Homo sapiens: one gene and its partner. The protein of the gene in region 1 interacts with the protein of each later gene in a pairwise test. Each region holds a gene or a part of one and is shown in the gene's direction. Other genes may lie near its edges.

Region 1 (3,813 bases):
AGCACTTATCACTATAAAATATGCTATATATTTTACATATTTATCTTGTCTGTTGTATATGTTTGCAGTATATACATACTGCTAGCATTTAAGTTCCACAAAGGCAAGAATTTTTGTCTATTTTATTCACAGTTATAGCCCCAGTGGCTAGAACTGTGGCTGGAATATATAGTAGACACTCATATTTGTTTGACTCTACAACAACAAATGAGATTCTCATTTTTTGGGGGCTGTGGTTACTATTGTTTTAAATAACACATTCTTTTTGCTACAAATGTAAATGTTGTCTTTAGTATATTTATGAGCTCTTTAGGAGCTGGACCACTTATACCCCCTATATGTACAGGTAAAGCAAGTCTCAGAAACTTAAAAAAATGCTATCATCACCTGCTTTTGACAGTTTAATAGAGTGTAAACATTAAAGACAATTTAAGAAAATTAAAAATCATCCATAATGTTATAACCATAATACAAATATTGTTTTATTTTTGTTTCCTTTTATTCTGTATTTATGTGCATTTTTACAGTTATAACGTACATGTTTTGTTATTTTCATTTAAAGCATACCTCTTTCCTATATTTCCCTGTACATGACCTTCATAACTATACTTTTAAAGAAATACGTAAATATTCCTCTGTGTGACAATATCTTAGTTTATTTTCCTGTTAGCTATTGAGGATCTAGACTGTCTCTGGAATTTTTATGGATTATACTGGTGTATTTTTGCAAGTGAACATTTTCATCTCTGCTGAATAACTTCCTTGGAATAAATTGCCAGAAGTAGGATTAATGAATGGAGGCTTATGAATTTCCTTAGTGTTTGTGGAAACTGTGGGCATTCTTAAACTACACAGGTTGATGTATTACTTTTCATGAGTTGTGCCAATTTGCAGTACTATGAATGAATGCTGACTTAATTACCTACTCATCATTAGGGGATATTTAAATTTTTTTCTACTTTACGGATGCAAAATAGTCTTGAAAGATTATTTTAATTTGCACGTATTTTATAATTTGCAAAAATGAACATTTTTTTGTGCAGCTACTTGATCTTTATTATGGAGGTAGTTTGGCATAGTGTTAAAGAATAGTCTTTAGAGTCAGATGTAGGTTCAATTTTTCCTTTGGCCGTTTGTCAGATCTGTGACCTTGGTCAATTTACTTAACCTCTTTGAACCTCAGTAGAACAGGGATAGTAGTATTTACTCACTCACTCAGCAGTTAAGTGAGGATTAATGGAGAAAACGTTTTAACCCAGTGCTCAGTAAATAAAAGGTAGCTCTCATTTCTATGCTTGCTAAAAGAAAACTAAAAGGACAACAAAACATACCTTTGTTAGCTTCTTAAAAACTCCCGAGCCTTCCTAATTTCCTCAGATACACCCATGAAAATCTCCCAAAGGAAGCCTTTTTCAATTGATAGAATCATTTACTTTCAGAGTTGGAAAGTATCTTAAGTTAGTTTTATGTGACATGGTTTTAGGTTTCTGTATTTTTTCAGTTGCTGCTTCCTGAATATGACAGTCTTTATTTCTCCACCTTTTAAAGAGGCATTGCTAAATGGAATTCGGCATTCAAAGTGTCTTCTCACTGGCACACTAGCAGAGAACTGTGACCTACCTTGTCCTAAGCTTTCATTAAAGATCCTAAGATGTTAAGCTTTCATTAAAATAGCATGAAGTTACATTCATTTTTATGACTCTCAAATATTTTTCACTTGTATTTAGCTTTCACAATGGTTTTCCCTTCTTTCCCCCTCCTCACCTTGATGTGTTTGATTTTTTTTTTTTTGAGATGGAGTCCTGCTCTGTCACCCAGGCTGGAGTGCAGTGGTGCAATTTTGGCTTACCGCAACCTCCGACTCCCGGGTTCAAGTGATTATCTTGCCTCACCCTCCCGAGTAGCTGGGATTACAGGCACCCGCCACCACACCCAGCTAATTTTTTTGTATTTTTAGGAGAAATGGGGTTTCGCCATGTTGGCCAGGCTGGTCTTGAACTCCTGACCTCAGGTGATCTGCCTACCTCGGCCTCCCAAAGTGCTGGGATTACAGGTGAGAGCTACCGCGCCCAGCCTGAATTTTTTTTTTTTTTTTTTTTTTTAAACCTGGGTGCAGGTCTTTATACTTATTTTTGGTTGGGCACATTACTTCTTCCCTCTGAAACTTTTTGATCTGCACAATTAATTACTATTCCTTCTGTATGTTTTCCTAACAAACTTAAAAAACTGATTGGACAGGACTGAGTATAGAACAGTATGTTTACACCACTATAATCTTTCTATTAATTGACACCCTTTGGTTATTGTATTGGCTCTCATTTTTAACTTACCAGCATCTTTTCACACATTTCCTTCTGGTAGTAGACCTGGCATTCTGACAGTATCCATAACCTGATGCATACTGGGCCAGAGTCCTCTTTTGGGATGTTTCTGCTGGAGCTGGTGTGGGGAAGGGTCTTTCTTTCCTGTCACAGAGGTGTGAAGGTAGACCCTAGAACTGTATTAGCCTTGGTCTCTTACATGGAAAGGGCAGAAACCCTGATTTTGTTTATCATCAAATGCTTTGTAGCATAGTGAACAAAATTTACAAAAATTTCGTGGTCCCTTTCAAAGAAAAGAATGACCTTAGTCTGACATAGTTTTTTGGTGAATTCATATTTTCTCCTAAAAGTTACCACTTCCTTCTAAGTACCCATGCCATACTGCCCATTTAGATAAGTAAGTTGTAACTTTTTTCCTAGGATCAACATCACACTCATCCATGACCTGATGAATATCACCTTCTAATCTGTTTCAATGTAATATGAACTTGAATTATGAAGGAGAAAGATAGGATCTTCCTACATTTTCTTTGGAATTTTATCTGCTAAATTAAGTAAAATTTTACGGGAAATGGTATTTCACTATGTTGACCAGGCTAGTCTCGAATTTCTGGTCTCCAAGCGATCGCCTGCCTTGTTCTCCCAAAAGTATCAGGATTACAGGCATGAGCCACTGTGCTCGACCCTATTAGTTCTTTTGGAAAGATTTTTATGTAACTGTTGTTTAAAATGGCATTTATATTATTTCTACATAAAATTAGGCATCAGGCCCTTGCTTAAAAACATGGCTTTCATCATAACATTCTTTTTAAGAGTAAGTCACTTTTGTTTTAGGCATCTCTGTCAAGAATATAGCCTTCTATAAAGTTAAGGATAAAATTCTTTGGATAACTGCTATTTATGTAATACAGTGGAACTATTATAAATATTAAGATGGTTTGAAGCCTTCTTAGGTAAAATAGGAGTATGCTAAAAGGTGTTTTGTTTTTTTTTTTATTTTTTATTTTTTTGCCACAAGATTGAGAAATGGAAAAGTGTTTTTTTAAACACACCTTTCTTATCAGTTTGCTAGATTAGCAGGCCCGAGTGAATGCAGTTAAGTTAATAAAGTATAAAATTGAAAATAAAGCTCATCAAAGCATAATCAGCTAGTTTGATATCTGTAAATAGATGTAGCCGTCTCACCACTATAATGGTACTATAATAATTGACATAAAAGTGGATTATATGATTTACTCTATGCTTAAATTATTTGGACTTTAATATTTTATTAATACATTTATTGGCATTAAAAAGCACTGTGTAGAATGAGGCAACTGCTCTAGGTAAATAATAATTTAGTCAACATGTTATGTTTATAATGTATCATTGCATGTCACTATTTTAAAAATATTTATACAGCTTCTTAAATGTATGAAGTAAGCAATGTGAGACATAGTACGATATGGTTTGGCTGTGTTGTAGGAGGGACTGGTGGGAGGTAATTGAATCA
Region 2 (4,592 bases), about 57 Mb from region 1:
ACTTTTCAGAGGCCCTTTAGAACAGAGCAGATGGGACCTACGAAACCTGGAGATGTTTATAGCAGCCCCATTCTCTTCTCTCCTGAACAACCTTCTGGGAAGAACAAGGACAGTAAATGCCTTTTTTTTTTTTTTTTTTTTGAGACGGAGTCTCACTCTGTCACCCAGGCTGGAGTGTAATGGCATGATCTCAGCTCACTGCAACCTCTGCCTCCCGGGTTCAAGCGATTCTCCTGCCTCAGCCTCCTGAGTAGCTGGGATTACAGGCGCGTGCCTCCACACCCAGCTAATTTTTGTATTTTTAGTAGAGATGGCGTTTCACTGTGTTGGTCAGGCTGGTCTCAAACTCCTGACCTTGTGATCCGCCCACCTCGGCCTCCCAAAGTGGTGGGATTACAGGCATAAGCCACTGCGCCTGGCCAGCAGTAAATGCCTTTTTGAGGGTTAGAGTAGAACAGACCAGAACTGGGTTTTATTCCCTTGGGTCATAGTGATAACCCCAGCATTCACTTCCCAGGTAGAAAAATCCTCATTCATTCCTAACTGACATAGGACCCAGTCCCTAACTGGGAGGTAGGGACATTTCTGCTGTTCCTGCCCTAGTGTTGCCTTGAAGAGGGAGCTGGCCCTTCACTAGAGCCTATTGCCAGGTATAGGAGTACTATCCCTTCAGGAGTGGGTCAGACCTCCTCCTAAAGTATTCTGTCTGCTGTCTCTGTGGACCACAGCCAAGTGAAGAAGCCATCTGCCAAGAGCAGCTGGGCGGGGACGAAGCTCCAGGGTCCTGCTTGGCCAACCCTCTCTTCTAGGCCCTCAAGATCCCAGCCTAGGCTTGGGGAGAAAATGCAACTGGAAAAGTCAAGGCTCATCCTTTCTCACGAACACAAATTCCTTTTAAGGCAATGTGTCCCGCCTCTCCCAACTATATAAGGGCAGCGTCAGTAAAAGAGCTTCTGCAAAACAAGCCCCACCCAGAGCCTAAGCTGACTGGGCCTCCTGGGCCTCTTGCCAAGGAAGTGCACCTGCCAGACTGGCTTAGGCCAGTCTGAGTGAGCTGGACCTTGGTGCCTGCCTTTCTGCGGTGGAGGAAAGGTTTACTCAGCTCCACAAAGCCTACAGGTGGCTTACGTATAGGGAGAGGAGCATGTATGGAAGGAAGCTTTTGCAGGTTCCAACTCCTCATCCACTAGGAGCAGGCAGGGTGATTCCCTCTGACCAACACTGATCTTGGAAAGATGGAAAGCGACAAGATTAATGAAGAATGTGCAACCACATACTCCAGATAAAGCTGTTCAGTTAAAGCAGCCCCATGTCGCTCCCAAGCCCCACCTTTGTGTAAATCTATGCGAGCACCGATGGGGCATGTCCCAGACCCATTGGCTCCGCCCACCTCACCTCCTCGCCTATCGTTAGTTCTCTGCGAAACCGCGAACTGGGGGCGCGGCCTATCTTCAGCCCCGCCCCTGATGGGCCTATACAAGGGGGCGGTTCCGCGCGCGCCCGCCCAGTTGGAGCCAGACAGCGGGGTGGACAAGTGGCGTGTGTGCTGCGACCCCGAGGGAAGATGAACGGGACGCGGAACTGGTGTACCCTGGTGGACGTGCACCCAGAGGACCAGGCGGCGGTAAGAAAAAGCGCTCTCGCTGTCTTCTCCGTTTTGTATTCCCGGTTTCTAAGTCCGCCCCTTCCGTGCCCCGCGCCGTGTTGGCTGACATCACCTGGTGCCCGGCTCGCGCGGTCAGCCCTGCGCGGCGCTTCTCTCTTTTTATTCTTTTGCCTGCGACGGGCAGTGGGAGTCGCGGGGTGAAGACTCCTTTGAGGCTGGAGGGTTCGGGGCGTCCCTGCCCTTTGGTAGGACACTGCGGCTCCTGCCTGGGACTCGGCGCCGGCGAGCCCGTGCTTGGGCCGCGGGTCTCAGGCGTCTTTTGGGCAGCCACATTGGGTCATAAGAGAATGAGCTCAAGCGACTGGGTCCCTGAGCGCCTTTGGACGTTGTGTCCTGCCGAGGAGGCTTAGGCTTTCCCGTGGGTCGAGGGTCCTGGTGACCTCCGAGGCCCTCCAAAGAATTTCATCATGGTGCTTTGGATGATCAGTAACAAGAAAAATGGTAGAGTAAATTACAGGGCTTGGACTGGAGGGCGGGGGGCAAGTAGGGGACGGTAGGACTCAAACTATTCCGAGATTGGCTAGGGACTCTACCTTTCGCTAAGGGATAGGGCTTTCCGCCCGGGGGTCACCTCTTGTCTTGGATTTCTCCTTCTTCCCCCTTGTAGTTCTCTTGTTTTCCTCCCTCTATCTGCCTGCCGATAGCTTCCTGGGACGGTGTGTTAGTTTTGCTTCCGTCTCCAGCCGCCAGGCCCTGGGATAGTGGAGGAAGGGGATGCAGAACCCGGGCCGAGAAGGGGAGGGAAGTGACCCAAGCGAAGGCTTCTGGACGGGGAGAGGGTTGCGGAGAAAGGGGGCGTTCTCCAGTGCAGGCTGGTCTACCCCTCTCTCCTCTTTCTCTGGCTCCCAGTCCCAGTTCTCCCCACCCTAGCTGACCATATGGTTTTTCCTCTCCAGAGGCTGAGGAGGGTAATTTGTGGCTGAGTGTTTCTAGGCTCTTTTGGGGAACTTAACCCAGATTAGGTGTGTACTATTTCATCAATTTCCAAGCTATTGTGGGTGGGAGTGAAATGAAAACTAAGGTGATGGGGAACTTGTGTATCATCCCCCCTCCCACATCTGACTCCCTTACTCTCTGCCTGCCTCATCCTGCTCTTGAGGTAGAGCTAACCCAACTGCAGCTAGATTATGGCTCTTCTTCAAACTCATTTCAGGTTTAGAATACAGATGGTCATTTAGTTCTTTTCCCAGTCCCCTCTCCATTTCTGCCTGGGCTATGAGTGTTTTTGCCACATTAAAATACAGATGTTGCTATTGGCCAACCCCAGTTGCCCAAACCCCATTCTTCTGTAGCCTGCCACATCCCCAGCTATGAGACTCTGAAGAGATGGAAGAAATCTATCCATTATGTGTCAGCCACAAGTCCTACTCCCTGCTCTTTGTTTTTAAGCGACGAGTGTCTTGCTATGTTGCCGGAGCTGCAGTACAGTGGCTCTTCACGGGTGCAATCATAGCACACCACAGCCTTGAACTCCTGGCCTCAATCCTTCTGCCTCAGCCTCCTGAGTAGCTGGGACTTCAGATGCACACCACCTATAGCTTCTCTTCCATGCTCTTGCTCTCTCTTTTGGAATAGTTGAGGGAAAAGGGTATGAGATAAATAAAGGAGAGGGATGTTTGGGCTGCTTTTTGCTTGCTTGCTATATAGAAAAGAGATCCGGAAAGAAGTCTAAGACCAAGTTGGCACTGGCAGTGTTAATGAATCATTAACCTCTACTATTTTTTTTCTTTCTTCCTTTCTTTTCTTTTCTCTTTTCTTTTCTCTTTTTTTGAGACAGGGCCTTGCTCTGTTGCCCAGGCTGGAGTGCAATGGCATGATCTCAGCTCACTGCAACCTCCACCTCCTGGTTTCAGTAGATCCTCCTACCTCAGTCTCCCCAAGTAGCTGAGACTGTAGGCACATGCCACCACACCTGACTAAAATTTTTTTTTTTTTTTTCTGTTGGTAGAGATGGGATTTCACCATGTTGCCCAGGCTAGTCTCGAACTCCTGGGCTCAAGCAGTCTGCCCACCTTGGCCTCCCAAAGGCTTGGGATTACAGGCATGAGCCACTACATCTGGCCCCTTTTACTCTTTCTTGATGTTTTTGCTCTTTGTCTGGTGGGGCAGAAAAAATTACTAAGAGAAAATAATGGACAAGGAATTCAGATGGTCTCCATCATAGGTTAGTTTGAAGCTAACCAGAGACCTCTAGAGCAAGGGAGAGACAGAAATTCCCTTTTATTCCTTTTTTCTAGGCTGAACTTGAGACTTATTTTACTCCAGAGCTGGGAATGAAGTAATCATTGCCCAGATCTGATCTTGGAGACATTCCTGGGCCCTTAAGGGAGGGGAGGAGATGGTGAACAGTCGGGACACAGGCCTTGTCCTGGATTCCTCTTCTCTGAGCCAACTTGCAGACAGAATTTATGGCTCTGGACAACCCCCAGGAATCTGTCATATATTCACACCACTGAATGGGTGCTCAATTCATGTGCAAAGTGAGTCAATAAATAAATGAACAGATGTTTCTTCCGGAGTCAGAATGTAGACAGTTGAACTGATTAGAGATCCTACTGGGAGTGAGGGCCCTGGGACTCTGTTGGTGTTTCCCCACTAGCCAGGCAGTGTGCCTTAGCGTATCACATGTGGACATGGACATAGGGCCAATACACTCTCTGGGATGTTTTTATTGTTGGAGGCAGATGCAGCAGGTACAAGGAGCCAGTGTTTTTCAGAACTGCAGACCATAACCAGTAGTGGGTCTGAGATCAACTTAGTAGGTCAGACCAGTATTAAAAAAGAAATAGAATTAACACTCTTAGAGTGTTAGTGAGGATAGACATTTTTGGTAGAACTTTTATTTCAGTTATATATATATGTGTGTGTGTGTGTGTGTGTGTGTGTGTGTGTATTATATATGTACGTGTTTGTTTACTGGGTCTTG

The links.
Region 2: the proteins of ABCD3 (region 1) and TUFT1 interact in a two-hybrid assay, tested with the Homo sapiens proteins (one large-scale study listed by BioGRID and IntAct).

The regions. Positions count from the first base shown.
Region 1 is NC_000001.11:94,424,770-94,428,582, forward strand, and holds part of ABCD3 (ATP-binding cassette sub-family D member 3), read left to right. Parts: intron 1-3,332; exon of another isoform or gene 3,333-3,813. UniProt on the Homo sapiens protein: Broad substrate specificity ATP-dependent transporter of the ATP-binding cassette (ABC) family that catalyzes the transport of long-chain fatty acids (LCFA)-CoA, dicarboxylic acids-CoA, long-branched-chain fatty acids-CoA and bile acids from the cytosol to the peroxisome lumen for beta-oxydation.
Region 2 is NC_000001.11:151,538,803-151,543,394, forward strand, and holds the start of TUFT1 (tuftelin), read left to right. Parts: upstream 1-1,506; 5' UTR 1,507-1,564; coding exon 1,565-1,624; exon of another isoform or gene 1,625-2,104; coding exon of another isoform or gene 2,105-2,107; intron 2,108-4,592. UniProt on the Homo sapiens protein: Involved in the structural organization of the epidermis. Involved in the mineralization and structural organization of enamel.